4 separate regions of the Homo sapiens genome follow, and all the other regions are linked to region 1. The links come from fine-mapping of genetic effects on gene expression. A gene starts in region 1. Each other region holds a variant in brackets. All regions are shown on one strand. Distances are between the middles of the regions. Region 1 holds the start of LNCRNA-IUR (lncRNA imatinib upregulated). Region 2 holds the start of SESN3 (sestrin 3). Region 3 overlaps SESN3 (sestrin 3). Region 4 overlaps SESN3 (sestrin 3).

What was found.
Region 2: its variant is fine-mapped to the expression of LNCRNA-IUR in whole blood (TOPMed, PIP 0.98).
Region 3: its variant is fine-mapped to the expression of LNCRNA-IUR in whole blood (INTERVAL, PIP above 0.99).
Region 4: its variant is fine-mapped to the expression of LNCRNA-IUR in whole blood (INTERVAL, PIP above 0.99).

Annotation. Positions count from the first base shown.
Region 1 is chr11:95,147,131-95,153,289 of GRCh38, forward strand. LNCRNA-IUR (lncRNA imatinib upregulated) reads left to right here and starts at 3,409. Exons shown (of 3, transcript NR_110303.1): 1 at 3,409-4,618. RefSeq lists a cis regulatory region at 179-809, enhancers at 3,195-3,736, 3,737-4,278, 3,879-4,008 and a silencer at 4,529-4,638.
Region 2 is chr11:95,225,992-95,232,150 of GRCh38, forward strand. SESN3 (sestrin 3) reads right to left here and starts at 5,211. Exons shown (of 10, transcript NM_144665.4): 1 at 4,792-5,211. The coding sequence starts at 4,869. LOC100129203 (a long non-coding RNA gene) reads left to right here and starts at 4,195. Exons shown (of 6, transcript NR_110295.2): 1 at 4,195-4,504; 2 at 5,134-5,582; 3 at 6,061-6,159. RefSeq lists silencers at 4,765-5,074, 5,085-5,234 and an enhancer at 5,590-6,159. The variant C/G (reference allele first, on the strand shown) is at 4,106.
Region 3 is chr11:95,192,753-95,198,911 of GRCh38, forward strand. SESN3 (sestrin 3) reads right to left here. Exons shown (of 10, transcript NM_144665.4): 2 at 705-770. Among named protein-coding and RNA genes, the nearest start is that of SESN3, 35 kb to the right of the region's middle. The variant G/A (reference allele first, on the strand shown) is at 3,357.
Region 4 is chr11:95,181,410-95,187,568 of GRCh38, forward strand. SESN3 (sestrin 3) reads right to left here. Exons shown (of 10, transcript NM_144665.4): 5 at 3,847-4,083; 6 at 3,011-3,185. Among named protein-coding and RNA genes, the nearest start is that of LNCRNA-IUR, 34 kb to the left of the region's middle. The variant T/G (reference allele first, on the strand shown) is at 3,315.

The DNA of each region.
Region 1 (6,159 bases):
TTACTTGCCTATTAAACACTCAGCCTATTAAAAACTTAGCGTTGCTCATGAAACTTGAGAAAGCAGATTACACTGCTAATTTTCCCTGATGTAGTTGTGTGAAATAAATTTGAATTAAATGAATCTCTGGCATTTTTCTGAACCCACACAAAAAGAAATGCATTTTTTTGGTGGCTGTTTTCTTCTTCTTCTCTCTCTCTCTTTTGTTTTGTTTTATTTTGGTGCCTCTAGGAGCTGGGGCCTCAATGATGAACAAGATCCAGGCATTGGCCTTAAAGAGCCCACAGGCTGGTGTTCAAGATCCAGGCAAACCCCTCCTTCCTTGACAAGGGTCAGCTTTGAGCAAAGATGGGTAAGTGGATGTGTAAACAGCCAACTTAGGTATATGGAGCAAGAAGGCAAAGAGCTGGAGAACTGCCACTCAGAATACAAGTTGATGCACAGAAAATATATCAGCAGAATCCAGAGCACCAGGAAGCTGAATCAGCAGAGCTGGCCGATAGTGAGATGACTCACCCCATTCCATGCAGGGGAAATGCATCTGTCTTCTTCGTATCCTCTCTCCCTGCACATATGACACTGAGCAGAAACTCTTCATGTGTTTGCCTCTGGCCCTGGGCTGTGTCTTAGTTATCTTTCTATCCCACTTCCTGACATTACCATCTACCACACTTTCTGGTGCGGAGCGAGGCTTAATAAATAATAGTTGTATTAAACAAGCATTCAAGAAGAAATGTCCTCACTAAGTGGGAGGTTGAACTAGAATAGCTCCCAAATTCTGTTCTACTTGGAGATTCTATGATTATGTAGACAGTCTGGCATGGGATAGGTGCCCACTAAATATTGATTCAGATGATGCCTGCTTAGTTTTGCAGTTATTTGTGCCCATGTTTTATCTCCCCATATAATCAGCTTACTTTTTTCTGCAACCGTATTAATTATTTACGAAGCACATTAGTAATCAGTTTGCATGCATTGTCTTCCTTGATTTCACATAACCCTAGGAGCTAGTGATTTAGTTTCTATTGCTGCATAACAAACCACTCCATAACTTAATGGCTTAAAACAACCATTTATTATTATCTGTCTTGGTTTGTATACTAACTGGGCTCAGTTTATTCCCATTCTTTTTGGGGTCCCAGATGTGGGCTGGTGCTGCAGTCTTCAGAAGGCCCAAAGGTGCTGGATGTCAGGAGAGCTCACTCGGTGGGCAGTTGATGCTTGCTGTTGGCTGGGACTGTTAGCCAGAGCACCTACACATGGCTTTCCAAGTGTTCAGGCTTCTCACAGTATGGTGGCTGGGTTGGAAGAGGGAACATCCCAAAAGACTCACACAGAATGACTTAGCTTGTATGAACTAGCCTTGGAAGTCCCAGACCATCACTTTTGCCACATTCCAATGCCCAAGTAAGTCCCTGAGGCCAGCCCAGATGCAAAAGAAGGGGAATTAGATTTCATCTGTTGATGGAGGAATGGCAAGGTCATTTCTGAAGAGCAGCTGAGATGGAAAGTATTTTGTAGGCATTTATGGAAAATGCCATCTGCCACAGTAGTTACTATTAATATCTCTTTCTACACAGGAGAAAATTTCACAATGACCTAGCTAAGTTATATGATTAACCTGCTTGTTCAAGATCAGCCAGATCCAGATGTCATCTAATTTAGTAACCATTGTACTTCACTTAGGATAGTGTTCTAAAACTTTAATAAGGAAGGAGTCACCCCTTTCAAAAATGCAGTATTAGTATCAAGAATATGAAAACATAAATTCTAGTAAAATTTATAAAGTAGAAATATAAATTCTAGTAACACTTGGGATGCCATGTTCAATAAATATTACTGAAGGAGGAGCTAACATCTGCTGCACTGCTTCAGTGGTCCAGGCACTCATACACTATATATAAACTCACTTAATCCTCACAGTTATCTTTTCCCCCCAGATGAAAGTGAACTTTAGAGGGATTAAATGCCTTGCCCCAAACCAAGTAACCACTTAGCGACAGAGCCAGGGTTTGAACACAGTCATGTCTCAGTCCACATTCCATGTGCTTTCCACTGAGCTCCATGTTACAGGTTGGGCTCCCCAGGAATCAGTCTCTGAGATGACAGTAGCATGCAGGAAGTTAGCAAAAAAGTGCTCAAGGGGAACACACGTGGGGAAGGGGAAAACTCAGGATTAGGCAAAGGAGAAGGTGGGCAGGTAGAACTAGAGCCAAGCAAATGCCAGCCAGCCTTTTTGGAGGGTTTGGGTGGATAACGGACAATGTCAAAAACAGCATTAATTTTCAATCCTGGGTGGTGGAAAGACTATATATATGTATGTATATATGTATGTATGTATGTATGTGTATGTGTGTATGTATGTGTGTATGTATGTGTGTGTATGTATGTATGTATGTATGTATATGTATGTGTGTATGTGTGTGTGTGTATGTATGTATGTATGTGTGTATGTATGTATGTGTAATTTCTCTATGTCAGACACTGCTGGGTTTGTGCTCCCCTCTATAATCTACTGATTGTGGGACTTCACACGAGGTACAAAACATAAGTGACCTAATAAGCCCTCTAGACAGGGCTTCAGGGAGGAGCCAAGGCTGGCACATAGTCAGAGGGCAGGAAAAGTTCCACTCCCTCCGTGTGATTAGGAGGGCTGCTTTGTTTTCTTCCCAGGCAGAGACCTCAAAGAAAAGTGTGACTTGTGGCAATCATTGGAATGCTCTAACGGGAGGGAGCCCTAAGCTAAGGGGAGGGGCTGTATCAGCCCCGGGAGGGCGAGGGACAAAGGGGCATTGTTTCCCTGGAGGGCAGGCTGGGGCAAGGCTGACTCCACTGCCGGCCTGGGCGTGGGCAGGTTTGCTCCCGGGAGGAGAAGGCCTCCATCCTGGCCCACAATAGCCAACCCAAAACAGTTCTGGCAAAATTAAAAGACGCAGGAAAATGCCAGCGACCGTTTATTTTCTCCTAGGGTAGATGGGGGAGAAAGCAGCTCCTTTTTCTGGGCTGAATGGAGTCTCAGGGAGGGGGCTAGGTGACAGCATCGCCCTTTCCTCTCCGGCTATTGCGCACCTTCTGGAGCCTCGCTCAGCCTGCTCCCTCCGGCGTAATACGCCAATGCTGCTACCCACAACGCACAGACCAGAAACCAGGATAGACAGAAGCCTAGAATGGCCTGGCATCGAGCAGGCCCAGCGCAAACGCAAGGTCTCTTCCTCTCCTTTCGGTGAACCCCACGCCCAGTCCCGAGAGAGAGAGCGGATGCTCATTTCCGAAAGCTGGCAATCCTGCAGTGGCCACTGGAAAAATACATATACGTGTGTGTGTGTGTGTGTGTGTGTGTGTGTGTGTGTGTGCGCGCGCGCGCACACAGTGCATATCGTGCCCATCTACAAGGAAACCTGGAGGCTCCACAAACAACTTTGAGTCCCGGGAGGGCGGAGGTGGAGAGAGATTCTCCGCTTGGATAAGGGCGGCTGGATAGCCGAGTACTCTCTTTTGGGGCTGTTGGCCGTCTCCGGAGTCTCGGGAGCGCCTTGATGTCCCTTCCCAGGGCTCGGGTTCCTTTGAGAGAATCAAGAGGAAGGTGTTTTTCACTAGGACTCGCGGTGGGCCCCACCTGCCTACCGTGGCCGGCCGGGAGCTATTACAGCAGGGTCTGCCCGTCCGACGACGGCGGCTCCAATCTGGGGTCCCGCCGGCGCCGACCCCTCAGCTCTCTCCCGATACCTGCTGGCCTCTCTCATCTTTGGTGGCACTCGCCGCCACGGGGACGGTGAGATCAAAGAGGTAGACCTAGGCCAGGAGGGACTGCCAGGGCTCCTTCCCGCGGGCCAGCCTCTCGTCCTTCCTCCCGGGACGGGGCTCTTTCCCTTTCTCCGGATGCGGGCCTTTGAGAGTCAGCGACGCCTTAGACTCCTCCCAGAAAAATGCACCCTCATCTACCCAATTCTGCCCTACCCTTTGGAGCTCCTGGACCCTCTAACCGCTCGGTGGGGTCAGAGCCCACCCCCGGAAGGGCCGCTGGTCGGGGACTGGTTCGCCCTCTCCTGGCCTCCTCGGACCAGTGCGCGGGGAGGATCCCGCTAACGCCGGGCGCCTGCAGACCTTGAGCGGCCTCGCCCTGGTGACCTCCCCGGGAAAGGCTGGGCGGTGCTTCCACAATGAGGGCCACCTGTTAATTTGCACGAGAAAGTGCTGCCGAGGGCCCACACGTGCGAATCCACCTGTGGAGTGCGTCCCCTCTCTGGGGCCAAGGCCTAGGGGAGGCCGAAGCGGAGAAGTTGCCTGAAGACTGGGAAGTAAGAGTAGGGGCGTCGGAGGAATCGAAGTTGCAGTGACATCAGGCTCGGACAGCCGGCGGACTCCTCGCAAGGTGATCGGATACTTCCGAGAGCCCCACAGTCCTCCTGGGCCTTTGCCCTCGCGTCTGGGATGCGCTCGGGCGCCCCCAGTCTGCGATGCGTTCGTACCTCCAGTAGGGTGACGTTTTCGCCGGGCCCCTCTGCGAACAGTCTCCGCCCTCCTCCACTGTGAGATATTTCACAGTTTCACCCGCAGAGGGCAACCTTATTCCAAGTTCCCGAGCGCCCTAGGCCTCTTTCTCCTCCCTGCCTAACTGGTGAGGTGGGACTTCAATGCCTTTTAGGTTTACAGTCTTTTCCTCCCCACGGCTTCTCTTTCCTCCCCGTCTCAGGCACTGGGCATTTCCAGTCGATCCAGCAGGTCTGGCTTCTCTCACATATGCAGTAAGGGTTAGGGGAGAAGGTCCCAGCTCCTCTTGTCTCTAGCAGAGTGTAAACTGGCTCTGCTGAGGAGGTGGCTGTGCTTTTATTCCTTCTCCTGAGAACTGTTTATATATTAAGGAGCTTCACAGCCTCCAACATAAGGAAAGCAGGTAGGAACTGATCATATAACGCTTTGTAAATGTTTTAGACTTTGGCTTTAATGGGAAAGAAATGGGGAGCCATTCGTGGGTTTTTGAGCAGCAGGTGGACATTGCTTTTCATAATGACCACGCCAGCTGCTGTTTGGAGAATAGACTGTAGGGGTCACTGCGCAAATTGGAGGCCGCGATCCAGGTGAGAACCAGGTGAAACAGAGCTCGGGCCATGGAGTGGCGCTGGAGGTAAGGAGAAACACTCAGACTCTGGGTATGTTTTTTGAAAGTAGGATAAAAGGCCGGGCGCGGTGGCTCACGCCTGTAATCCCAGCACTTTGGGAGGCCAAGGTGAGCGGATCAAGAGGTCAGGAGATCGAGACCATCCTGGCTAACACGGTGAAACCCCGTCTCTACTAAAAAAAAAAAAAAAAAAAAATTAGCAGGGAGTGGTGGCAGGTGCCCGTAGTCCCAGCTACTCGGGAGGCTGTGGCAGGAGAATGGTGTGAACCTGGGAGGCAGAGCTTGCAGTGAGCCGAGATGGCGCCACGGCACTCCAGCCTGGGCGACAGAGCGAGACTCTGTCTCAGTCAATCAATCAATCAATAAAAATACAAAACATTAGCTGGGTGTGATGGTGTGCACCCTTAATCCCACCTACTCGGGAGGCTGAGGCAAGAGAATAGCGTGAACCCAGGAGGCAGAGGTTTCAGTGAGCCGAGATTGCGCCATTGCACTCCAACCGGGGCGAAGATTTACATATATATAAGATTTTCTGTCTGATTGTTTTTTTGGGTATGAGAAAAAGACAGGAATCAGGGATGACTCCAAGCAGCTGGAAAAACGGAGATGCTGCTGGCTGAGATTGGAAGATGCTGGGGTAGAGGGATAAGACAGCTTAATGTTATATATTTTAGGTTTGAGGTGTTCATTAGAAAAACAAGTGGAGAGATTGATTGGGCAGACACACAGGTCTGGAGAGGGCTGGGCTGGAGATAGAAATATGGGTTGCCATGATACAGGCATGGGACTGAAAGCCCCATCAGTCCCTTGGAGAGATCATCAGAGAGTGAGTAGAGACATAGCAGGGCGAAGCCCTGAGCCCCGGTTCCCCCAGCATGTACCTGCAGTCTGTTTCCTCTTCTCAACTACAATTCCCATGGTCTTGTCTTGTTCACAGAACCTGCTCAAGGAGCATCTATTAAATGAAGGAACCCAACTTTCATCACATGTAAAATAAACATCATTATAATCCTACCTCATAAGGTTGTTGTCAGAAAAAG
Region 2 (6,159 bases), 79 kb after region 1:
GGGGCAGGGAATACAGACAGAAATATGGAAATCAAAAATAAGTAAAAAAAAAAAAAAAAGTCATTCTGACTAAAAGCATAATCTTTACCTCTCATTTACAGGCAATAATTAAACAGGACAGAAAAGTGAGTATTAACCAAATTACTCAGTATGTATTGAAATATATTCCCATAAGACGGAAAGAACTAACATAGTCTGGGAAAATGGAAAAATATATGGACTTGTCCTTTTCTTTCTTACACGGTTTATAAAGTTCATTAACACACATCTATCTCTCTCCAACTATACAGCAATCTGTAAGGCAAGTAAAAATTATCAACATTTTACAGAGAAAACTCTGCTTTGAAATCAAAAGATCTGTTAAAGACCTAACTGCAACCACATCTGTGGCTTCCAGTATCACTACATTAGTAGTTATGTTTTCTATTTATTTAGGGTGGGGAGTTGGGGGAAGCAGCAGAACACTTTTTACAAATTAAATCTTCTATTGAACCTGAACTATAAAGCATATAAATATACCAAGCAACTTTCAAGTATTTTAGTAATAAAGTTACAACTACTGATAACAATAAATTTGTGTTCTCACAAGTAAACATTTAACTTAAGTAAATATGGAAGGAATTCTTTTTAAAAAGCCAGTTCCTTCACAATCAATGACAATCTTTCTCATACATGACACAGTAACAAAAAAAAATTCAAATATCTGTACAAAGATAGCAGAACAAATTGTAATTCAAGACCTGCACAAGAATAATTTTGTAATGAAAGATAATGGTGTTAGACTCCAGTTATTAAAATTATGTGTACATATTTGGGGGTACCCATATTTTTAAATTACAGTTTTAAAATAAGTTAAAACATACTTAAAAATTTAATGCAACTCAAGCATTTTAAAACCCCAAAGAATCTTAAGGGTCCATACGAAGCAGTTTGAAAACCATTGCATAAAGGTTTGCCATCACTAATTAACTACTTGATCTCTGCTTAGGATATTTAAGATAATCAAGTTAAAAACTGCCTTTGACAATCAAAAATATGTAACACAAGAAAACTGATTAACCAAGGCATAATGTAACTAGTGGTCCACAGATAGAGCAAATACATTTTATTGGCTAAACCATATAAAGTTGCTATTACTTAACAATTTTGACTATAAAAATGAGGCTCATATAGTTCAATCTAGTATTTTTCTTTTTTTTTTTTGTCTTTTTTTTTGAGACAGAGTTTTGCTCTTGTTGCTCAGGCTGCAGTGCAGTGGCGTGACCTTGGCTCACCACAACCTTGGCTCACCACAACCTCCGCCTCCCAGGTTCAAGTGATTCTCCTGCCTCAGCCTCCTGAGTAACTGGGACTACAGGCACACGATTCCACGCCCAGCTAATTTTTGTATTTTTAGTAGATATGGGGTTTCACCATGTTGGCCAGGATGGTCTCGATCTTTTGACCTCGTGATCTGCCCACCTTGGCCTCCCAAAGTGCTGGGATTACAGGCGTAAGCCACCATGCCCGGTCCTCAATCTAGTATTTTTCATTTTGACAGTATCTTTGTTTATAAAACCATCAAAAAGATGTCAAAATATATGATCATATAACAAAGTGAAAAGTGCAATAACAATACAAAGATATATCACTATAACTATCTTAACATTAAAAAAGTTTAAATGTTAGATCCTCTAAAGAGCACAAAACTATTCATTTAAGTAGCACTAACTGCTCAATACCCAAAGTACATTGGAATATGCCACTTTTTTATTTACTGGAAGATGAGTGGACTGATAATTACCTACCTTCCTCAATGCAGTTTGACACATGACTTTTCAAATTAAAGGATTATGTTCTTCTAGTTATCACTAGAATTTCTTCAAGTAAAAGATTAAACTTAAAAACTCGTTAACTTTACAAAATAAATAGAAGCATTTCCTCTTTTATTAAAAACTTTACTGAACTACCTCATTGACAATAGAGCAAGTTAGACTTAAGAGTTAGGGATTTCAGGATAGTTTTGATGGTTAATTTATTTATGGATATGGTTTACCTCTCCATTCTTTTTACTGTCCTAAGGTTACCAAATTAGGTACATTCAATATTTTAATAAGTCTCTTTATTTTGGAGGATACTAAATCAAAACCGTAAACGGACTTCTAAGAATAAATGTAATTCTCATACAATATATAATTCAATATTCAGGCATTGGGTTAAACCATATTATTTCATTTGAAGGTGAATTCCATTCCTTGTGAAGTTCCCCTAAAATTCAACACACTGCAACAAATTAAGCCACCTACTGAGAGAATAACACTTTCTGTCCCATATAAAGGTGACCCTTCTTCCATCATTATATAGAAATATAAAAGCAAAAGTAATTCACACTGGATGAGCATGAGTTTCATTCTTCCATTATGAATTAGACTGAACAAACATTCAAAATACTATGACTCACTTGGCTACATTACTGAACACTTTATTAAATGGAAAACAAGATAAACTCTAAGAATCACATTTTGAGAGTTATAGATGACTTTTAACTTAGAGTTATATCAACAAGAAAAACATGTCTTTATTAGAAATAAACTTTTCATTGTTATTTTAAGAATGATGAAACATTTAAAATGCTACATACTGATTCTCTTAAGAGCACTTCAAAGTGGCACTCTTTAAAAAGCTGCAAATGTTGCCAAGTCATGTTATAACTGGCTCAAAGAATCCTATTTCCATTAAGTTATTTCATGCCACTGCATGAATCAATATTAAATACCTTGGAGTTACTAAAAACTGGAATACTGGCAGAGATGTGCTCAGCAATTATAAAATACGAAAATGTGAATACTCTTTTTCCACGTTTCTTTTAATAATGGCTAGAAATGAGGATGTTCTTTCTAGGTAAACAGAAATAGTTTCCTAAAAGCTAAAGGAAAGATGTAATATCTTAAATGCTAGCAAAGTGTCATGGATCCATAGCCATAGCTCTCTCAAAAGAAAAATGAAATACATTTTGAAGCCTAATATTACCTCCAAACATTTTATTAGCCTAACAAATTGCCAGAGCCATTAAAAAATTTTTTTATCAAAGTCAATACAGTGCTCTTTTTCCTTATTCAATTAAAAAGCATAACTTGCTGTCATTTTAACCAGGCTGCACTTTAATCAAACATGTCTTAAATGACACATTTTTTCATGTCAAAGACATAACATAAATTTAAAAATTAAGAAATAAATTTTTTTGAAAGCTAAGTTCAGATGACATCTGGCCCTGCAGTGAAAGAGTTAACATCCAACTAAGCTGATCTGCACTTCTGATCCATTACATTTCTCACAAGCTACCCTACAATGAGCTGAGCAAGTATCAACTGTAATTTGATCCTAGAGTTTATGGAAAAAAATAACTGCACATACTCAACATGCACATTTAATAAAAATCTGTTTCAAGAGAAACATATCCAATAAACACAATTTAAGGCATATTTAACTGTTCAATTAACCTCAAATCTGCAATCCCTTTGCTCTCACGCTCTCAAATAAAATAGGAAGAAAAAAAAAAGCAGCAGCCCTACTGCAGGGAAAAGAGGCTTGAAAAACAACTTTGATTGGCACTTGGCCTGACCCACAGAGGAAGAAAAACAGTTTTTGGACAAAGAGCGCAAATATTTGAGCTTGCTTACTTATGTGCTTTTTTCTTTCTTCCTTTTTTAAAAAAAAATGTAGAAAGAACAATCCCAAAGTGAACCGTATTTAGAGATGTTGACTAAAAACGGTACCATATTCATCTCCGCTTTCAGTCCCGATGCATTTGCACAGCTCAGCAATTTTAATTCATTTGTAGTGAACAAACAGAAGCATCTCACCTAACGTTTCCACTTAATAAAATGTAAAAATAGAGTTTGAATACGAATAAACTGATTATAATATTACTTTGGGGCAGCTGTTAAAATCTGATCAAAAAGTCTAGAGACCTTTTTTTCATTCCCTTCCCCATCCCTCTCGCCCTTCCCCGCGGGGCGATTAAGCCAAGTAAGCTAAACAATACTGGAGTAAACTTTCTATCAGTCACTCTAGGAAGCAGCAATAAACTGATGGTGCGCCTCATTTTTCTGGATCAACACGGGGG[C/G]AGGGGGGTGCTAAGGAGGAATAACCCACATCCACCTCAGTCTTCTCCTCCCCCAACCCCAGCCTCAGGAACTGGCCAGGTCGAATTGCATTTCCCATGGGCATAAAGTTCAAGATGCTTTACTGGTTCCTTTCGAGACTGAACTACAGACACAGGACTACCATCCAAACAATTTGAAAACGGGGGTTGTTGAGCAAGGCGCGCAAGGCAGAAGCAACCGAATAAACAAAAACAACACTCGCAAGAGTTAGCCACAGCAAAGAGGGGCCAGGTTCCTCGGGATCCGACCCAGCTGCTCTGATTTCACACCGACCTCCATCAACAGCTAAACTGCACAGGGAGGAGGATCGAACGGATCCCTCCCGCCCTCCGCCCAAGGAGCCGACCCGGGGTAGCAAGGTAGGGAAATGAGCCGTAAAGGAGAGCAAAGGCACCAAATAAAAGGAACAAGGGAAGAAAAAATATCCCAACCCCTCCAGACTTGGGTCTGTCCCGGCGGAAATAAAAAGCCGCAGTAGTCCAAACCCTCCTGCCCTCAACCCACGCCCCCTTTCTCAGTCCCTGCGGAGGGACGGTGCCCGGGGATCCCTCTCAGCCTCCCCCAGTGCGCGCCCGGGGACGAGCCGCCCGAGCCCCGGCCGGCAGGAAGCGACCCTCGCCGGCAGGACCCCGGGCCGAACCCGTACCTTCCGCAGCACTTTCCGGCAGTTGGTACAGAGCAGGTAGTTGGCGGCGGCCGACGGGCTGCCGCCGCCCCGGTTCATCGTGGCTGCGGGCGCCGAGGCGAGAGCGGGCGGAGGGCCGGGTCCGGGCTGTCACTGCGGCCACTGCAGGGCCGGTCCGTCCCCCCGCCGCCAGCCGCGATTCCGCCTCAGCCTCCTCAAGGCGGGATGTCGGGAGGAGAGGCGACTGCCTGAAAGCTAGCGGCACTGCCAGAGGCGACCACCGCGGCAGCTGCCCCAGCGACGGCGGAGACGGCGGCGGCTGCTCCTCACCGGCCCGTTGTTCCACCCGCCCCCATCTTCCAGACCCCCGCCCCCGCCAGGCTAGGACGAGCAGCCGCCACCGCTGCCACCGCCACCACCGCCGCCGCAGCGCCTCAGTGCGGCCCCGCCTCCGCCGCCCCACCACCTTCACCACCTCCACGCTCCGGTACCGCCCCTCCCGCCAATCGGACAGCTCCGGCTACGCCCCCAGGGCGCTAGCCCGCAGCCAATGAGCAACGAGAGCCCGACTGGGAGTCGCGCCGGCCAATCGCAGGGGCCGAGGAAGCCTTGAATCTCCGGGCAAGTTAAGTTTATCTCCGAGGCTCGGAACTGAAGGGAGGTGGCGGTTAGCTAAGTAGTAGGGTAGCAGGGAACAGTTTGCTCTCCTCTGCCAATAAGAGGACGAGGGTGTGTCATATGCAAATATACTGCCCTCCAAGCCCCACCCCCAAGATAAGCTACGCCCCCTTCTCTAGGTCCCTGCAGAAGTGGTGAGGAGAATGAGATAAATAGTTGGGAGCTAGAGCTCGCTAGAGAGTCTAAGATTGAGCTAAATATTTCCTGATCTCTCGAGAAAGGGGGAGGGGAGTGGGAGGATTAAATGTTCCTTCCTTCAGGGCAGTGGTTAGGCTTTCTCTCCACCAAAATCTAACTTTAGCTGTAAAGAAGACTGCAGTTATGTAGTACTTTGTATCCAGGGATCTCAAAGAACTTTACGCATCATTTATTGTGAACCTTGTTTTGCAAAGATTTCAGTTACTTGAGGCTTGGGAGGCGGATAGGGGATAAATGTCTGAGTTATATATATATTTACGCAAGTAATCGAGTTTGAGGGGAGAGACACAAAACCTCTGGTTTAGCGGTTTCCTCTTGTTTGTGAAGCACCTTCTAGCAGTTATCTTAGAGATGTAAGTTCATTTACTTGTCCAGCACTAAAAGGCCAAAGGGGCTTGTTTTCTCACCCAAAAGACCTTCCTGAGGCAGCTGTTCGGATACATGCAGAGCACAGCGCCCTGCTCAGAAAGGAAGGTTCAGAGAACAAATTGTCGTTTAAAACTATTGGGACAA
Region 3 (6,159 bases), 46 kb after region 1:
GCCAAGTATACTTTGATTTGCTCACTTCCCCACCATTTTGTCAACTACAGGGACCAAGACAGTTAAAAATATAATGGGATCCAGATGAACCACATATAATTAGAAGTAGAATATTTGTTATTTTTGTTTTGCTTTCCCAGCATAAGTTTGTTCTAACTGGATGCTTAAGATACATTAATAGATTCATATGATGCAATAGATCCTAAAAACCAGATTATCCTCAAATATATACTGTGAAAAATGACTATGCTTCAGGAAGTCTTTATATGTAGTAGGCAACTTAGAGCAGCCCCAGGCTATCTGAGGAAAATAGGCATAAGCAGGATAGCTTCTCCAGTGCATGGTGCATCGTCCTCACCGAGATCAGCTATTGTCACTGAGCTCCCGAAATGTTACTGTCACTTTGGATCTGCACTTAGGTGGGAAGGTCACTAAAAAGGTGATCTGATGATGAAAGAACTGTTGACTCTGGCAATGATCAGGTATTATTCTATTTCTACTAGTCCCTTCTTTTAAGACAATAATTGGCACTCTGTAAATATTTGTGAAGCTGAAAAGAAAATATCTCCATGGTTTTCTGACATGTGAACAAGAAACTCAAAAGCAAAATTCATTCCTACTTTCATATTAACAGGAGATATTCTTTGATACAGTTAAGTTATTTTTAAATCTTACTTTTTATATTTTAAGACAGATAAACTTACTTCCTTCTCTGGAATAAAGGCACTTGGTCCTCTTGTCAAGGGTTGAGACACTCTGATTCTTTTATCCTATTTTTAAAAGAAAAGTTTTATGTATCAATGATGACTTTCTAAGAAATGTTAAATTTGTACACATTTATTGCTAAGGTACTAAAATAAAGAGAATAAATAATTAAATTATGTGAGACCAGAGTAAGTGTTGGGTTTCAGATCAAAGAAAACCCATAGGGCCACTGTATGGATGAGATAATGGGGCAAACACCTACCATAGTGCTAAGTGCAGCACAGCCTCCTCAAAATGTCATATCCCTTAGTCACAGTCTACACCATAAACTTTAAGCCCACATCTGACATGCCTGAAAACCATTAACCTCCATAATAAAATAGTGTTTTATAGTAGTATACTGTTAGACATCAATTTGAAAACTAAATAAAAGGTTAAATTCGAAGAAGATTACATAACAACCCTTCAAAGCAATTACCCAGTCTGCTTTTTTTCCCCTAAAATAGCAATAAGCATATCTAATATGAAGTTTTGAAACTTTAAGAAAAATGTAAAAATTAGAGAAGGAGAGGTTAGTTCAATATAAAGAATGGGGAACATAGTAATTCTTATTGTTCCACTTGCTATTCTATTGGTGGTATTAACAACTGACAGATTGCCAATGGTATGTCTGAATGCTGATTTTTTTTTAAGTTTTTAAAAATTTGTTAACTTTTTTAGATTGAAAAATATTTTAGTATCCTCATTAAGTGCGATACAAGCCATAAAAATTCGAATCAGAGAATAGGGTCCTTCTTCTCACCCTCCCTTTCTCCCCCCATTACTAGGTAACCTGAGTCTTTTTTGGTCCTTACAATCAAACAGCCTATCAAACACAAAATAGTTATTTATATCTCTTAAATCCTTTACTTCATTAGGAACCAGTTACAAAACAAATTGGTGAAAGTAGGCAGTCAGGCATTTAACACGATTTTTTTGAGAGCCTAATCAGATACTGTGATAGACTTTGAGGATACAGGGTGAGGAAAACAGATATGCTCTCTGCCCTCATGAGCTGTACACACAATCTTCATCAATTTTGGGAGTTCTATTGAAATAAATATATTAAACAATAATACTCTTAACCTGGTAAAGTTTCAGAAATAACTTTATATTTCTAGGTTATATTTACAAAATTATGACAAAGGCCTCAATCTCCTGGTCAAGTACACTGGAGGACTGCATGTTAAGAGGATGAAGTCAGGATTCCAATATTGGTATTTCTTGTCTATGTCAACCAAATCTAGACTTACCCAGAAAGATAATTTAAAGGAAAATAACAGGTTTCTTCCTTTTGCTAGTCTCCATAAGATATAGAAAAAAAAATTTCGAACACTCTCTGTATAACTCAATGAACTACAAGGTTAAAGTAAGCTATGATCGCACCACTGCACTCCAGCCCAGGTGACAGAGTGAGACCTCATCTCACAAAACCACCACAACAACAAACTTAACGAAGTAGTATATGAAAAGCAATTTTCTGGACAACTATTCATTTCAAATGAACAAAGCAGCTGGAAAAACTGATTATGAGGAAAAATTATGATTATGAGGTTTGAGGAAAAAAATTTCAACAGGGAGATAAATCGAAATCTTTAAATAATAAAAAATACATAAAATTTAGAGAACATGTAGGGGGAGCAAAATATAAACTCACGTTAAGATGGACAATGGGATTTTGGAAACAAAAAATGATTTATTAAATTTGTTGATAAAAATCACAATTTGATACAGTTAGCAACTAAATTTACCTTTAAATGTTTCATATTATTACTTTAAATATTTTCTGGAACAGGTGAGATTTAAATCTGAAAAAAATATTTTCATTATAAATGGAACTGAAAGGTACTGCATTTAAATGAATATAACATCCCTTAGTGTTTAGCAATTGAAAAGAAGCAACTTAAACTCAATTTCATTTGTGTCAACACTGATTTCTTCATTTATTTAGCAAACATTAATTGAGCATCTACAATGTGCTAGGCAGTGAGGACACAAATAAGAATTAGATTGGCAGAATGCATATAACCAGCTACGGCGTATGACATATACCATCGCAGATGCATACAAAAAGTGATGAAAGAAGACATCATTTTAGCAATTATCATTTACTTAAGTCATTTTCCTACTGTTGAACATTTTAGTTATATACAGTTTTCACTATTATAAGTAATCCTGTGATGAACACCTTCATATAAAGAGACTTGGGACATATTTTGTTGTGTTTACGATAGTTTCTTTAGGAAGATTCCCAGAAGTGGACTTACTATGGTTTGGGTTATAAATATCTTCAAACTTCTTGTTGCTTACTGCCAATGTGCTAACAAAAATGTCTTACCAATTTTATTTTCATCGGCTGAGAAAATGTCCACTTAACTCACTAATTTCAAAAGTAAAAAGCAGCATTCAAAAACGTGTTTGAAGCGTTTTATTGTATGCTTCTTTGTAGTAAAAAGTTCTTAAGCAGAGATGTGGATCAGATCTGTGTTTTTAATAGTGTTGAGGGTGATGTAGACCCTGGGCCTGAGAGGGAAAAATCCCAGCTGGGAAGCTCTGGTGATAGTCCAGGAGAGATAAAATATGGCCCGACCTAAAATATTTGTTTATATACC[G/A]AACATAAAAGAAAACTAACACAATTTTTAAGTTTTAACATCATGTATTCTTCTTCAATTATATTTTTTAATGTTGCCATTTTTGAAATGATCAGTCTAGTTTCTGCTTCTGCATAAGGAGAATCTTTTCTGGCAAGGACTCTACTACTGTATTGTCTCAGTTGGCTGCTCTGTCTATTCATAGGAAGGTGAAATACAATTTTAAAAATGATCACAGTTCATAAATTCTACTCTAAACACATTTCATTCTGAAAATTTGTTTCCACCCACTTTTCTATCTCTGCATGCTTTTAAAGTCAGTAAGATCAAATACAAAAGAAATAGGATAGTACTATATCCAAAAGATTGATTTTTTTTTTTTTAAGATAAGACCATAAGCTAGAGTTCTGGTCAAATTATAATGCCTTTCCTCCGCCTTTCTTTCAAATCCCAAATGTCCAAGGACCAAGTTCCTACTTCACTCATACTAACTTTTCTAAAGTCTCTAGACCTACGTTCCCCAACATGGTAAGCATCAGCCACATATGGCTAAATTTAAATGAATTAAAATTAAATAAAGTTAAAAACACAGTTTCTTAGCCACATTAACCACATTTCAGATGCTCGGCAGCCACATAGGACCACGTGTACTCTACAGGACAGCGCAGACATTTCCATCTTCCACTGCAGACAGTTCTACCGGACAGTGCTGCTCTGGACTCATTTGGTTTTGCTTTTTTAAAATTGCATTTTCAGACATTTTTATAACTTTTTGAAATGTTAAATGACTGCTCCACAGAGTTATTCATTTGATGGTCACACCTACTCAATCCCAGAACCAAGCATTTTAGTGTAATTGCAGAAATGCTCTGAACCAATCAACCTATTTGTCCTATTTGGGCAAATTAGGAAGAAAAAAAACTATCAGCCAGTTCCAAGGACCCTTGTCTCAATTTCTGCTTACATTACAGTCCCCAGAAAAGTATCAAGGGCACGCTCACTTTCCTTCCTTCTTTCTTTCTTGTGGTAATAAATAAATAACACCCAAGGTTTACCCTTTTAAATTAAGTGTACAACCCCAGTATTGTTAACTATATGCATGATGTTGTACAGAGGAGGTCTAGGACTTTTTCTTCTCACATAACTGAAATTTTATTGCCATTGAACAGCAACTCCCATTTCTCCCTACCCCTAGGTCTAGGAACCACCATTCTACCTTTTGCTTTTTATGTAAACACAGTCTTTAGATCACAGCTGAGATTCTCCCTATGTAATCCCCTGCTTTCTTACCTCTTTGCACAAGTCAAATCTACCTCCTTCTGGGCAACTCTCTTCTTTTTGGGCTTCCTTTTCTTTTCTTTTTTTTTTTTTTTTGAGACAGAGTTTCACTCTTGTTGCCCAGGCTGCAGTGCAATGGCACAATCTCAGCTCACTGCAACCTCTGCCTCCCGGGCTCAAGCGATTCTCCTGCCTCAGCCTCCCGAGTTGCTGAGCTTCCATAACACTTTACCACCCAACCCATTAACTTCTTTGATCATTTACTTTTATGTTTCCTAGATGTTCCTTGCAACTCCTTCCTTATAAATATTATTCTTTCAAGTCAATGTTCTCTTCTATGGCTACCATATTCTTTACACAAAACAAAATTCTACTCAAATTTGTTATGGTGACTATATTGTAGGGAAGACGATGGAGCAGATGAAGGAAAAAATAAGGGCACAGGATACGAAAATGAGCAACCCATGCAACTGCCTCCTGAATCTTTTTTATCTAGAGAACTCGCTAGCTCTTCTCCGCCCTCCAGTCTGGCTTTGGGTATTTTGTGACATAACCTGGATGCAACATTAGCACCTTAAAATCAACATGTTTAAAATGAATCTTCTATCTCAAACCAGCTGTTCCTCCTCACTTTCCTCTGTAGGTTATAAAATCACCATACATACCAGCAACCCTGGCTCAGATTCACAGTTATCTTGGACTCTTTATCCTAGGGGCCTGCATTCAAATGGTTGCTAAATCCTGTAACTGTCTTTTACCAACTAAATCTTTAAGTCATCCTTTCCACACCCCCTACTCAGTTGTAAGATTTCTCTCATGCCAAGAAACCTTTCCCCTCACAAGTGAGAATAATATCAATTCTAGACTGTAGCTTACCCCATTGTTGGGAAGCTTTGAGAAGATACCGCATAAAAATGTAAAACACACAAAGCATAATATAAAATATTTTTATTTTTCTTCTGCTTATTTTCCTCAATGTCAAAAAAAAAAAAAAAGAACCCAAAACGAAAACAGCTATATTTTCTCAACAGATGCTACTTGATTAGAAAAATTCAAGGATTGCTCTATGCTATAAGTGAAAATATGCAGTGGCTGCACTAATTTTGAGGAATAATATTGCTATGTTTTTCTCTAAGCATTTCAGCTAAAGCTACTATCTTACTTTTGGGAATAAATGAGTTTGATCATTTAGTCAAAGATCTAGTGAATCTTATACAATGGCTTTTAAATAATAAATCTTATTTATTTCTGTGAAAAACCAAAACAAGTCCTTGAGTTTCTTTCGCTGTCACTAGCCACATGTGCCTATTTAAATTTAAGCTGATTAACATTAAATAAAGTTAAGAATTTAGAGTTCAATTGTACTAGCCACATGTCAAGTGTTTAACAGCCACATGTGGCTAGTGGATACCATTCAGGACAATGCGAATCTAGGCTATTTCTACCATTGCCAAAAGTTCTATGGTATAGTGTTGCTTTGTAATATTGTTCAGCTGCTAGGATAATGCAAAGATATAAAATGGCTACAAAATCAGGAATAAACATA
Region 4 (6,159 bases), 34 kb after region 1:
TTTTTCCTAAATTTATCTTAAGAAGTTAAAATTAGCATTCTGATTATTAAATCTAAAACTCTAGCTTTAATTCTATCTAAACAAATATTTCAAAGTCTGTACTCAAAAGAAATAGTATTTTGTTCATTATCTGCATTATTCTGCCCCTAAGAAGTAGTTACTGACATAATACGGGAAACATTCTGTTGCAGTAATGGAATGCGTAACTGAAAATACAAAAAACAGTAAAAGCTAGTTAACCCTGTTACCAAGCTACAGAATATGACCCCTGTAGAATACTTTAAACATTTATTTTCTTCAAAAGACTTGAAAAACTATTCTTAGAATCCTTACATAGAATCTGGAATACTTTATAACGCTGGTCAAACCAAGACTTTTTTAATACCAAAAAAAACCCTTTTTATTTCTATTTTAAAACATGGTAAGTCTACACAAATGACTCAATTAGCTATTGTACTGAGTCTTTTTTCTATATTTTATTTGTGCAGCCAGCAAAGTTGGTACTGGCAATGATTAAGAGTGAAATATGTATTTTTATATATATGTGTGTATATATGTGAATATATATGTATGCGGAGGGGTATATGTATGTATACTGACATTATTTCCTTGAAATAGCCTCTTCTATTAAAATTAGAACATAATTTTTGGCTAAGGTCCAAGACTTTCTAGTCAAAATTCACTTTTGAAGGCTGTAGTCCCAGCTTAAAGTTCCAAGAAGGTAGAGACTGAAATCCAAAGTATATTTTTAATATTTCAAAAGACCTAAGAGAAATAAAACATTGATATTTTTCAAGCTTTAGTGATCTTAATGAAGCTCTTAAAAATTAATTTCTGAAAACACACAGATATTACTAACTTTAATATAAATGTTTACATTTTTAGACATTAGTTTACCTAGAAGGTTCATCATAGAGTCATTATTTTCCTTCAACCTCACCTCTTCTCTCTGGATGAATTTTATAATCAACTTTTAATGTCTGTTCCCAGTTATATGCTGATAACTTCTAAAATTTTGCCTTGACCTTAAAGCCCTCTCCTGATTTCCCATCTCTTCTACCCTTTGTATTCCAAGAGTGGCTTGCATACTAGCAGCACTGGCATTACTTGGAGGCTTGATAGAAATGTGGCCTCTCAGGCCCTACCCTAAACTGACTGATTCAACTTCTGCATCTCAACAAGATTCCCCAAGTGACTCATGAACACTGAAGTTTGAGAAGTGCTGTGCAAGACATTTCCAGACTGGTTGTTTTATAGACATCTCTACTCAAAATGTCCAAAATACGGTAGGTTACATATTTCTTAAGGTTAGCAAGATCCTTACAGTAGGGACTCTACCTACCTAACCAGATTTCTCTTTACACTACCTGTTTCATGATGTACGTCCTAACAACACAGAACCACTTGTTCTTGGACCCAGCATCCTGTTTCCTTACCATCGTGCCTTTGCTTGGGCCTGGATGCTGTTTACCATGTCCTCCTGTGCCCCTCAGTCATTACCTGACTTCCTCACACTCAACTGGGTTAAGATTTATCTTAGAGCCAAGGGCTGCAGGCATTCTTCCTCTAGGTTCCTCTTCTGCCTACACCCTTTGCCTATCAAGACTGGGTTCAGTGCCCTCTTCTAGGCTCCTATCTTTCACATTCTGCTATGAGTTACAATTATTTTTTTGCTACTAGAATGAGAGTGCCCTGAGAGCAGGAATCATGCCTTATTTAACCTTAAAACCTTAGTACCTAACACCATGCTGAAACTCTATCAGGTACTCAGTAAGTGTTTGCAGAGTGAATATTAAACCAATAATCCAAATACTAGGTTTCTTTGTTTGGAATTTCCTGCTGACTAGAGGCTCTGATTTTAGTGACAGTAATCTTCAATGGATTAAATTAATTGAAAGGATTAAAATGGTTACTCAATTTGGTAGATAAAATTTTTCATAAAAAAGATCATCAGGAGAAATGATAAAAAGGGTTCTTGTTCTTCCTGGTAAAACTGAGAACTACTGATCAATGTTTTATGTTTAACATTAACAAGTTACGGCTGAAACAATTCTCAAAATTTATGAGATTGATGAGTTTTAAGACAGGCAGTAGTTTTGAAGCCCTCTTTTAGATCAACAGAACTCTATTTTTAAAAAATATATTATGTGTGATCCCAGCTACTCAGGAGGCTGAGACAAGAGAACCGCTTGAACCTAGGAGACGGAGGTTGCAGTGAGCCAAGATCACGTCACTGAACTCCACCCTGGGTGACAGAGCAAGACTCTGTCTCAAAAAAAAAAAAAAAAAAAAGTTATGCACATAGATTACTTTTAAAGAGTTTAAACTTTGTATTGAGTCTATGCTATTTTAATATCATTTACTATGTGGTGTTCAATATCTTTTTAGTTGTAATTGAAAAGTTTATTTCCTATTTCAGTCCTTCGAGTATTAGAAAAACTGTTTTCAAGACTACAGCAAAGAATCTCAGCTTTTAACACAGGATGAATTCCTCCAAATTCAGTCTAAGAAAATGACCTAAATAATACATTTTTATAGAATTCCAAAGAAATGTAAATGCAAATGCAGTGTAATTTTAGAACTAATCTGGAAAAGCAGCAGTGTGAGAATAATCTTCCCACACACCCCCCACCTACAAAAAAGGCAGTTTTTTTTAAAATTTTATCTATTGAAACAATATTTCACTTATCATTTTTAAAAAATCACAAAAGTAGGATAAATTAAATATGTCTATCTAACTTTATAAGTAACTGATCTGCTTTAAATAACATTTTATCCAGGATAGAGTATGAACTACAAAGCTGAAAGTTTCTCTCAACTCAATCTGAAATACATTCAAGGATGAACCAGCCTGAGGGAAAGCAATAGCATGAGGGTAAGATAGAAGAGGAGAACTAAATAAGAGAAAGATGGTAGCAGAATCATTTTTACATATCCACATGGAAAACACTGAAGTTGCCCTGTCAGGGTTCTAAGAACAACTAAAAGGCAAAAAAGTGCAAAAAAGCACCTGAATGAGGAAATGAATGAAAAGTATCTCCAGAGACCACAAAAAGACTTTCTTTCTTCTCCTTTTCAAAACGAGTGCTCATTTCTTCTTGAGACGCCTCTTCATCTTCCCTTTCTTCTTGAAGTCTTTTCATCCTTTCCATTAAGGCCTCTAGCTCACTTAGAGAATCCACAATCTGGAAACAGATAAGATAATGTTGGGTGCTATTCATACTAAAAGTGTTCCAGTAAATATCTCCATCTCCAAATGTCACCTTACTATGTACAGCGGAACAGGCACAGTTATGAAGTTCTTAAGTCGGTTT[T/G]TCACCAATTTCAAAGGAAATCATGACAGATTCCAACATTTTCAGAAGTATGATTTTTTTTTTAGTTATAAATATAGAAGTTTATAAGTATATATGTGTGTGCATAAAATCTACAATTCTAGCATTTGGTATATATTAAATATTATAGTTTAGTTTAAAAAAATGAGGCAGCACAATTGTTTTACTTTTTGCTGTCATAAGGTATGTTTTCCATTGGTTGTTCCAGCATCTTATACATACAAGTATATTGTTTTGGGATCTACTGTCCAAAGGGTCTAACATTAAAAGCCTATGATCACTAGAATGCATCACTGTTTAGTCTTTATGATTTGCAGTAATATGTATTTGCTTTAAAAGCCTCTTTAAAATAAATCAGAACTTCAGGTACCAAATTTTTACAGTAATAAAAATTATGCAAAAATATTTTAAGTATATAATATCCTATCTAATTGGAGAAAAATTCTCTCTAGATATTTTTAATATTAGAAGTTTAAAGCAAAAATAGTAAAGAAAAATAGCTAAGAAAACTAACCCCAAAGTTGCTGCCTGAAAGAGATGCATTCTCTATGTTGTTGTCATTAGCAAGATCACAAACGCAGAAATTGTTGACTGATATTAGCCTGAATCCATTGGAGATTTCTGGATCTCTCTCTGGATTGATACCACTACCAAAAACAAAGCTTGCCAAAGCATGATAATGTGCCAGGAGGACCACAGCATGTACCAGTTCAGGCAGAGACCAATTATTTTCTCCAGTTTTGACAAGTTTCTGAAATAAGAAAGCAAATCAGAGCAAATATAAAAATTCTAGAATGCTACAAAGAAATTTCAATGAAAATCTACCAATTTTCATATATCCACTTAGAGTAATAAAACTTAAAACTCTCTTTTAAAAATGTTTCACATGTTAAAGATATGATTTTGGCCAATGCGCCATTAAAACTATCATACCTAACAATATAATTACATTGTAGTGTCTTCTAAATCCCTTATTATACAATAAATCTTCTGCTTCCAAATCATTTTTTATATAGTATGCTATTTTAATGAAATACTTTTAGAGAATCAAAGAACACTGGAGCTAGATAGGACTTTAAAGATTATCGAACAAAACCATTCATTTTAAGGTATATTGGAAACTTCATCTCACAAAATCACGAAAAACCCCAATTCAGCAAGTCAAGTTTCAGTTATCCTTTAGATACCTTCTAATGGAGAAAGAACCTGCAGCAGATGACAGAAATTGTAGAATACTACCTCACATCTGAATAAGAATTTTAAAAATTTCCAAGCACTTTTTCATATTCTGTATTTCACTTGACCCTCCAGCTGAATGATGGATCACAAATGAAGTCATTAAAAACAGTAATTCCTCCACTTTGTCCAAGAGTGAATTCCACCAATTAATCCATCAGGGATTCTTTCCCATCGGTGTTCATTTTCTCTCCCTTTCTCTCTCTCTATCTCTCACTGTGTGTGTGTGTGTGTGTGTGTGTGTGTGTGTGTGTGTGTGTGTGTGGTGTATGTAAGGGGGAATCTCATCCCTCTCTTTCCCTCCTTCCAAATCTAAAACTTTCATTTGGCTTACTTAATGGCTAAAACAAAACAAAACAAAACAAAATAAAAATAAAACTGCTTTCTTTTGCTTTACTACCCACTATTTAACTACACACCATATATAATTTAATGTATTACCAAAAGCTCAGGGAAAAGAAAAGAAAATCAGTCAAATTCTATCATCCTATGGCCAGGGGAGATAGGAAAAGATCTGTTAAAGAACAAAATTATAGCTAGATAGAAGGAATAAATTCTAGTGTTCCATACCACTGTAGGATGACTATAGTTAACAATAACATACAGTTTCAAATAGTTAGAAGGAAGATATTGAACATTCCCAACACAAAGAAATAATAAATGTTTGAGATGATGGGTATCCTAATTAATCTGGTCATTGTACATTATATATTATCAAAATATCACTATGTACCCCATGGATATGTACAATTATGTGTTAATTAAAAAATAAAATTTAAAAAGTGATCTTAAGACAAAAATATCATTATTATAATCTGTAATAATGTAAATAAAGAGGGTCATTATTGAATAATAAAAGAATATACACCAGAAAAATATACTTGCTTTACATCTGTATGTACCTAACCTTGTAGCCACAAAATATACTAAATGGTTGCAATATTGACTGAAAAAAATTCTACCACTCTAACTTTTACATATTTTATTTTTTATAAGCAATTATATAGTTACAACCACACATATCTATATTTTTCTGATTTTCAAATTTGACATTTTGACATGTTCATTTTTCATTAGGCCACAGTGCCATATTAATTTTTAAGCAAGGCCTCTCCTGTATATCAACAGATGTATATAACTACTTCTCCTTTCCTATACCATTATTCATATTCTAAATTTGTTTTGTTTATTTGCTTCTATAAACAGCATCTTCATACTATAGTTTTATTCTTATTTTAGAAACATTTCCTAATAGGATTTTTAGAACAAAGTGTATTAATATTTTTATGACTTTTGATAATACTGCCAAAGAGCTTTCCAAAAGGACTGTTAGAATTTACAATGCCCTCACCAATCTCTGCAGGATTATCATTAAACCTGAAAGGACAGCCAACACTCACCATCTCTAATTTCTTGCCTCACATTCATTTCTACTTTTAAAAATTCATTACAATCTGGTTTCTTTTTCAAGCAAACTCCAGAAGCTACATTTACTAATATTACACATGACCTTCCAAATGGCCAAATTTGACTATTTCTTTTTAGTCCTTATTTTATTTGATCTCTGCAGAATTTACATTGTTTACCTTCT